2 linked regions of the Homo sapiens genome follow. The protein of the gene in region 2 purifies or fractionates together with the protein of the main gene of each other region. This does not show direct contact. Each region holds a gene or a part of one and is shown on either strand. Other genes may lie near its edges.

The links.
Region 1: the proteins of CREB3L4 (region 2) and CREM purify together in Homo sapiens (affinity purification with western blotting, with the first as the bait; one study listed by BioGRID). This does not show direct contact.

What each region holds. Positions count from the first base shown.
Region 1 is NC_000010.11:35,189,172-35,192,983, reverse strand, and holds part of CREM (cAMP-responsive element modulator), read right to left. Parts: intron 1-3,812.
Region 2 is NC_000001.11:153,970,893-153,975,162, reverse strand, and holds the end of CREB3L4 (cyclic AMP-responsive element-binding protein 3-like protein 4), read right to left. Parts: intron 2,420-4,270; coding exon 2,327-2,419; intron 2,192-2,326; coding exon 2,085-2,191; intron 1,969-2,084; coding exon 1,900-1,968; intron 1,784-1,899; coding exon 1,699-1,783; intron 1,544-1,698; coding exon 1,447-1,543; intron 1,292-1,446; coding exon 1,098-1,291; 3' UTR 804-1,097; downstream 1-803. Other genes in the region: protein JTB precursor, read left to right, coding at 328-484. UniProt on the Homo sapiens protein: Transcriptional activator that may play a role in the unfolded protein response. Binds to the UPR element (UPRE) but not to CRE element.

The sequences.
Region 1 (3,812 bases), on a different chromosome or scaffold from region 2:
GCATGGCCTATCCCAGGAAATGAAAGAAAGAGCTGTATTACAAAAGAGGGAGAAGTGGAGAGGTAGGCAGCTATTAAAGAATGCAAGGCTTGGATCAAGCAAAGATTTGGGCCACATGAAAGATTTGGAGCTTTGTCTAACAGGTCACAGACATTGATGGATGCTTTTGAGTGGATGCTATAGACTGAATGTTTGTATCCCCACCCAATTTCCTCTGTTGAAATCCTCACCTCCAATGCAATAGTATTTGGAGGTGGAACCTCTGAGAGGTGATGAGGTCATGAGGGTGACACCCTTGTGAACAGGATTAGTGCCCTTATTAAAAAGACCCCAGACACCAGGTGTGGTGGCTCATGCCTATAATCGTAGCACTTTAGGATGCCGAGATGGACGGATTACCTAAACTCAGGAGTTCAAGACCAGCCTGGCCAACATGGTGTAACCCCGTCTCTACTAAAAATACAAAAATTAGCTGGGCATGGTGGTACATGCCTGTAATCCCAGCTACTCGGGAAGCTGAGGCAGGAGAAATGCTTGAGCCCAGGAGACAGAGGTTGCAGTGAGCTAAGATCACATCACTGTGTTCCAGCCTGGCCAAGAGAGTGAGACTCTGTCTCAAAACAAAACAAAACGAAACAAAACAAAACAAGTGCAATGCAGTAATGGAGATGTTGGGGGCAAGAAACTGCTGTTTTTAAGAACTATCAGTGGCTCCCAGAATCACTGTGAGGAATGAAGAGTTTAGCTGAACTTTCAGGAACAATTCCCAAAAAACTGAGCCAAGAAGGGAGCTGCTGCCTCTGGCATGATTAGGAGGATCAGAAAGCTGTTCCACAATAGCCAGCTTCCGGTGGCTGCCGGAGACTGTAGCCCACAGGGGTAGCCTGGGTCAGAGGGATAGCACCCAGGCCAGGGCCAGGGCCAGGACAGAGGGCTGTGGAGTGGCAGAAGCATTCATGGCTCAGCCAGGCAGAAGAATCTACACAGTGACTTTGAATGGAGACTGGGAAGAATACTGGACAACACCTAGGTTTCTGGCATCAAGGATAGTAGTGGTCAATCACTGAAGATAGGAAGAGTGGATTTTAGGAGTCAGAGGTATGTGTGGCCATCTAAGGAACCAGCTGGAGTCAGGACATAGTCACAGTGAACTGAAGCCAGCGTGGGAGGGAGTCCTTCAGGGAGGGAGCTCAGCAGGAAGAGGGTGGGGGAGTGAGCCTGAGGATCACTGAAACACTCAGGACAGGGGCAGGGGAAGCTTAGCCCAGCAACAGGACTGACAGAGAAGCAGCAGAGAGAGAAGAGCAAGGAGGACACAGTCTCAGGAAGTGGAGGAAGCAGAAGTCGACAGTGTTAAATACTGCTGAGGCATCAGCCAAGACAGGCACTGAGAATCCACAAAGAAGCTGACAGGGCCCTTCAGTGAGATGAAGGGAGAAGGAGGGCAGGGAACACTGCCACTAAGTTCAGGAAGACAAGAATGCCCACTGGCCTTGCTGTGTTTAAACTGGAGCTCCTGGCCATGATTATTTAAGGAAAAGAAAAAAAGAGAAAAAGAAAACAGGAATAAAGATTGGAAGGGAGGAAACAAAACATCACTATTTGTATAAACATTCACATAGGATCACAGACCGAATCACAAAGAATCAGTAAATTATTAGAAGTAATTAGAGTTCAGCAAAGTTAATAGATAAAAGATCGACTTAAAATAATCCGTATTTCTCTACACCAGCAACAATTAGAAAATACAATACAAAATAAGGTACCATTGTAATGGCAACAAAACCCATAAAGTACTTAGGAACCAACTAAAGAAAGAATATGCAAGATCTCCGTGAAGAAAAATGTTCAACTGTTCCCTAAAACTTAAAGTATAATAAATAAATAAATAAATAAAAAGAAAAATGTTCAACTGTTAAAAGAAGTAAAATGAGATCTGAATAAACAAGACTTTCTATGGTTTGGGATAGGTCAACTTAACATTATGAAGACTTCAGCTCTCCCTAAATTAAATGCAGTCTTGGCTGGGCATGGTGGCTCATGCCTGTAATCCCAGCACTTCGGGAGGCTGAGGTGGGCGGATCATGAGGTCAGGAGATCGAGACCATCCTGGCGAACATGGTGAAACCCTGTATCTACTAAAAATACAAAAAAATTAGTCGGACATGGTGGCAGGCGCCTGTAGTCCCAGCTACTTGGGAGGCTGAGGCAGAAGAATGGCGTGAACCCGGGAGGTGGAGCTTGCAGTGAGCCATCGTGCCACTGCACTCCAGGCAGGGCAACAGAGCGAGACTCCATCTCAAGAAAAAAAAAATTAATGCAGTCTCATCATTGGTTTTATTATTATTATTATTACTACTACTATTTAGAAACTCAAACTTATTCCAAATGCATATGAAAGAATAATCGTGCACAAAAAACTAACTCTGTATCAAACTGAGAAAAAAGACAAGGGGAACTTGTTTTATGAGATAACAAACATGTATGGCGCTGGGATTCAGAAAAAGATGAATCAGACAGAAGACTGGCCAGATCCAGGTGCAAAAGCAAACCCACTGTCTAATTAAGGCTGCCCCATACACCAGTGAGGAAACAACAAACCCTTGGGAGTGGCTCCATATACGGAGAAAAAAGTTAAAAATGAATTCCCACCAAATACTATATACAGAAGTGAAGCCCAGATACATTAAAGACATAAATGTGAAAGGTAAAACCATAAAGCAAATAGAAGAAAATGTGGAAAAAAATCTTTGTGACTTGTGGAAGAAAATTCTTAAAAACCCCAAGGCACAAACTTACGTGCATATTGTGTAAAACATTAAAAATTCTCAAAACTCTGTTGTTTGCAGTAGATTCTTCCATGTAACAAAGATAAAATGAGAAGAAATAATTATTCTTTAAGATTATTCACCTAGACATAAATATGGTCCATGAGTATGGGGGGAATAGAACAGGTGGCTTTCATTTTACATTTCAAGAAAACATTAAAGTACTGGGTTTGTACTATGCATTTTTTACTCCATAAATGCCACCACCTCAGTTCTTCACACACTTTTACCATAGTCCACATTAACCCCCAAAATACCTGAGTATAATTATCAAGAGACTCATCAATTATAATATGCTTATCATACCTGCAAGACATTCGAACTAAAATAACTGATTTTACTTTCCTTAACGTTAGTGCTGCCTGTAATCCCAGCACTTTGGGAGGCCAAGGTGGGTGGACTGCCTGAGCTCAGGAGTTCACGACCAGCCTGGGCAATACGGTGAAACCCCGTCTCTACTAAAATACAATAAATTAGCCGGGCATGGCGTTATGCACCTGTAGTCCCAGCTACTCGGGAGGCTGAGGCAGAAGAATTGCTTGAACCTGGGAGGCGGAGGTCGCAGTGAGCCGAGATCGCGCCACTGCACTCCAGCCTGGGCAACAGAGCGAGACTCTGTCTCAAAAATAAATAAATAAATAAATAAATAAACAAACAAACAAACAAGCAAGCAAATTTTTAAAAAATAGTGCTATATCCTAAATCCTAAGCGAATGGACCAAGAGGAATAGAATTCAATTAAAACACAGGAGTTTTGAAAGCTGTATTAAATACATCTATTACAGTTATCATAGGCACAACTGAATTAAAATAATGTATAACGCAAATCCAGTTGAAATCTCAGGTAACCCTAAAAGCTTAGGGCTACATCTCAACTTTTATTTCATTACTGACAGCTTCCATAAGAGCTAGAATGGATACTTCAGAATTCAAACAACTAAGAACAGTCAGTCAAAAAAACAAACAAACAAAAAAAAACAAAAA
Region 2 (4,270 bases):
GTGACAGAGCGAGACACCATCTCAAAAATAATAAGAAAGAAGACGGGATTTGGAGCCAAATTACTTGAACCCAAGTCCCAGCTCTACTCCTCAGCACTATGTTATTGGCCATATTTTCTCATCAGTAAAATTGGTTAATACTAGCTCTGCTTATCCAGAGAATAAATTAAATGATCTATTTGAGAGGGATTTATGTACTATACACACAATAGAAGCCTGGCTCTGATTTCCTCTTGAGTGTATCCTGGCTAGGCTGAAGTAGAAGGGAAATTAGAGGGAGAAGCTGTCTGGCCTTCCTTGGGAATAACTATTCCTTCCTGCCCTCAGCTGCCGCTCAGCTTTGATGGAACAACGCTTATTTTGGAAGTTCGAAGGGGCTGTCGTGTGTGTGGCCCTGATCTTCGCTTGTCTTGTCATCATTCGTCAGCGACAATTGGACAGAAAGGCTCTGGAAAAGGTCCGGAAGCAAATCGAGTCCATATAGCTACATTCCACCCTTGTATCCTGGGTCTTAGAGACCCTATCTCAGACAGTGAAAGTGAAATGGACTGATTTGCACTCTTGGTTCTTTGGAGCCTTGTGGTGGAATCCCCTTTTCCCCATCTTCTTCTTTCAGATCATTAATGAGCAGAATAAAAAGAGTAAAATGGTTTCCTTCCCTTCTGTAACTTGGAGCAGGAAGTCATGGGGGCAGAGAGGGAAAGGAGGTGGTTACTTAAGGCCCCAATCTACCAAGTCTTCCCCACCACTTCTCCCTTGTTTTCCCCCTCTTCTACTACTTATTTCAAACTTCTGGGATACAATTTCAGCTAAAACGTTTATTTCTCACTCAAAACTTATTTCCCCTCAACCCTATACCCAAAGAAGAAATAAAATCACAGATACATAACAGAAGTATTTGAGGTACCCTCTCATATATGCAAACAAATGCAGACTAGGCCTCAGGCAGAGACTAAAGGACATCTCTTGGGGTGTCCTGAAGTGATTTGGACCCCTGAGGGCAGACACCTAAGTAGGAATCCCAGTGGGAAGCAAAGCCATAAGGAAGCCCAGGATTCCTTGTGATCAGGAAGTGGGCCAGGAAGGTCTGTTCCAGCTCACATCTCATCTGCATGCAGCACGGACCGGATGCGCCCACTGGGTCTTGGCTTCCCTCCCATCTTCTCAAGCAGTGTCCTTGTTGAGCCATTTGCATCCTTGGCTCCAGGTGGCTCCCTCAGTCTGGACTCTACCACTTGGGTCTCCAGATTTTCTGTTACGTCCTTGTGGGTCAGGATATTTCTGGAAGTCACTGTGAGGTGAAGGCAAGAGGGCAGTAGTAGAGTGCTCCCCTGGGTGGGAGACCCTAGACAGGACAGGACCTCCCTCTTGCTTCTTGACGACCTTGGAGAACAGAGTCCCCCTCCCTTGCTCAGCCAGGGGTTGCTCCCTGCCCTTGCCTCTCACCTCCGTGAGGCTGGTAATCCTCAGACCCAGCTTCTGGTCGACTCTGGAATGGACTGAAGCTGGGCAGGATGATGAGAGCCAGGGAAAAAAGAAGAATCTGGGAGGAAGCAAGAGGAACAGATGAAGGGAGCAGGGGGTAGAGTGAACGGAGGCCAGCTGGGGTTATCGGATGTGGGAAGTAGATCTGGCCGGGTAGTCGGGGTATAAGGATAGAAGTGTGGGGGGAGATGGGAGTAGATAGACTAATGGTACCAAAACACAAGTGCTGGTCTGGGCAGCTTTGTTGGAAGTTTGAGCAATTAGCGTCTGCAGCTGGCGGAGCTGAGCTACCAAGGAGCTGGGAAAGGAGGAATGAAGAGTTAGTATCATCTGGGTACCAGGGGCCAAGAATGGCACCCCTGTGTGCTGTACCTGCCTTCAAAACACACATACACACACAATGCTTTCACTCACATGTTGTGCCTCTCCAGCTCCTGGACTTTTTTCTGTAATTCTTGGTTCTGTGCAGAACAGGCTGCCACCCTAGAATGTAGGGAGGTAGGACAAGGCTCAGCAACCTGAGTCCCTTACCTTGCCTCCCATGGTGAGGAAGGGGCCCAGACATGGCCCACAAGAAGCCAGAAATAACCCAGGCGTACCTGCTCTCCAGCCCATCAATGTACTCCTTCTTCCGCCGCCGACTGTCCTGAGCTGACTGCTTGTTACGGATTTTCCTCCTGACCTTCTTGAGGACCCTCTCCTCTGCCTTGGAGGCCCAGGATGTGTGAGTCCTGGGTCCTTCACCTGCCCCCAACTCCCCAATGCTTCTCCTGGGATATTGGCCCCTCAGAGGTCATGGTGAGGCCCCTGGGTTGGGATACCCTTAGGGGAAGCATGTTACCTTGGTGAGGGGCAGGTGAGAGGGCAGGGAAACCCCTTCCTGCCCCAGCAGACGCTTCTCCTCATCGGTCAGGAACAGGGTTTGACAGGGCAGCTGGGGGTAGGGGCAGGAGAAGATGCAATAGGAGTGAGGAGGGGGTCATCCCATTTGCAGCACCCAGGCTACTCCCCCCACATGCCTTCTGGAGAGTGTTTCCTCACTGGGAGACAACTTTAATCTAGAGGTGAGGTGAGGGGCAGAGACTTTAATTCAGACAGGCTCTAGATCAAGCCAAAGGGACATCCTGAGGCCAAGAAGGGAGAGAGGAGGGTATTGTCATATCCTTCACCCAGACACTGAGGACCTTGGCACTCTGAGCAAGCTAGAGAAGGCTTATTCTGGTCCATGTCTCCCCATACCCAAGAGAACCTGAAAGAACTCACTACAGTGAAGTTTGCATAATTTCCTTACAGCAAGCACATGATTCACTTTCAGTCATTAACTTCCATTTAGCAGAGTGTGTTATCCAGTTGCCCGTCAACCTCAGGGAGCTCCCTGGGGCAGTGGCCCATTCTCCCTTAGGGTCTGAGCTCTGCTTCTCAGACTCAGGTTCTGTCCCCTCTCATACAAGGAGCTTCCCAAAGGCAGCCATACGTCTCACAGCAAATCACAGGAGAGGATGTACGGAGAGTGGATGGCCCTTCTCACTAGTATTTCTTTTTGAAAGATGTATGTGGCCGGGCACAGTGGCTCACACCTGTAATCCCAGCACTTTAGGAGGCCAAGGTGGGCAGATCACCTGAGGTCAGAAGTTCAAGACCAGCCTGGCCAACATGGCAAAACCCAATGTCTATTGAAAATACAAAAATTAGCAGGGCGTGGTGGTGGGTGCTTGTAATCCCAGCTACTTGGGAGGCTGAGGCAGGAGAATCGCTTGAACCCGGGAGGTGGAGGTTGCAGTGAGCCGAGATTGCACCACTGCACTCCAGCCTGGGCAACAAGAGCGAAACTCCATCTCAAAGAAAAAAAAGATGTATGCTTCATTTTGTGACTTACAGAGAATTTACTTTGGTTTTTGCCTGCTCATGGTTTTTGGCTTTTGGCAAAACCATTTCCTGTGTGGCTTTTCCTGATGTGCCTTTCTTGTTCCTGTGACTGTTTGGTGGAACTATTAGAGGAGTGTCTCTTCCAGTCCACCTAATCAAAATCACTGAAAATGAGGCCTAGAGGGTTTCATTTAAAACAAACAACAAAAAAAAAAAAAAAAAAAGAAAAAGAAAAAGAAAACAGAGTGGCCAAGGTGGCTCACGCCTGTAATTTCAGCACTTTGGGAGGTCAAGACAGGAGGATTGCTTGAGGCTAGGAGTTCGAGACCAACCTGGGCAACATAGTGAGACTGTCTCTACAATAAAGAAATAACAAAGCATTTACAAACACCATGGTGCTTCTAATGTATACCCAAACTTAGGGGCATCAGACTTTTTTTTTTTGAGACGGAGTCTTGCCCTGTCGCCCAGGCTGGAGTTCAATGGCGCAATCTCCACTTACTGCAACCTCTGCTTCCCGGGTTCAAGCGATTCTCCTGCCTCAGCCTCTCGAGTAGCTGGGATTAAAGGCACCCGCCACCATGCCCAGCTAATTTTTGCATTTTTAGTAGAGATGGGGTTTCACCATGTTGGCCAGGCTGGTCTCGAACTCCTGACCTCGTGATCCGCCCACCTTGGCCTCCCAAAGTGCTGGGATTACAGGCATGAGCACCGCGCCCGGCCGGCATCAGACTTTTAAAGGTTCCTCAGCTCAAGATTCTAAGATGTTGGCCGGGTGCGGTGGCTCATGCCTGTAATCCCAGCACTTTGGGAGGCTGAGGCGGGCGGATCACAAGGTCAAGAGATCAAGACCATCCTGGCCAACATGGTGAAACCCCATCTCTACTAAAAATACAAAAATTAGCCAGGCTTGGAGGCG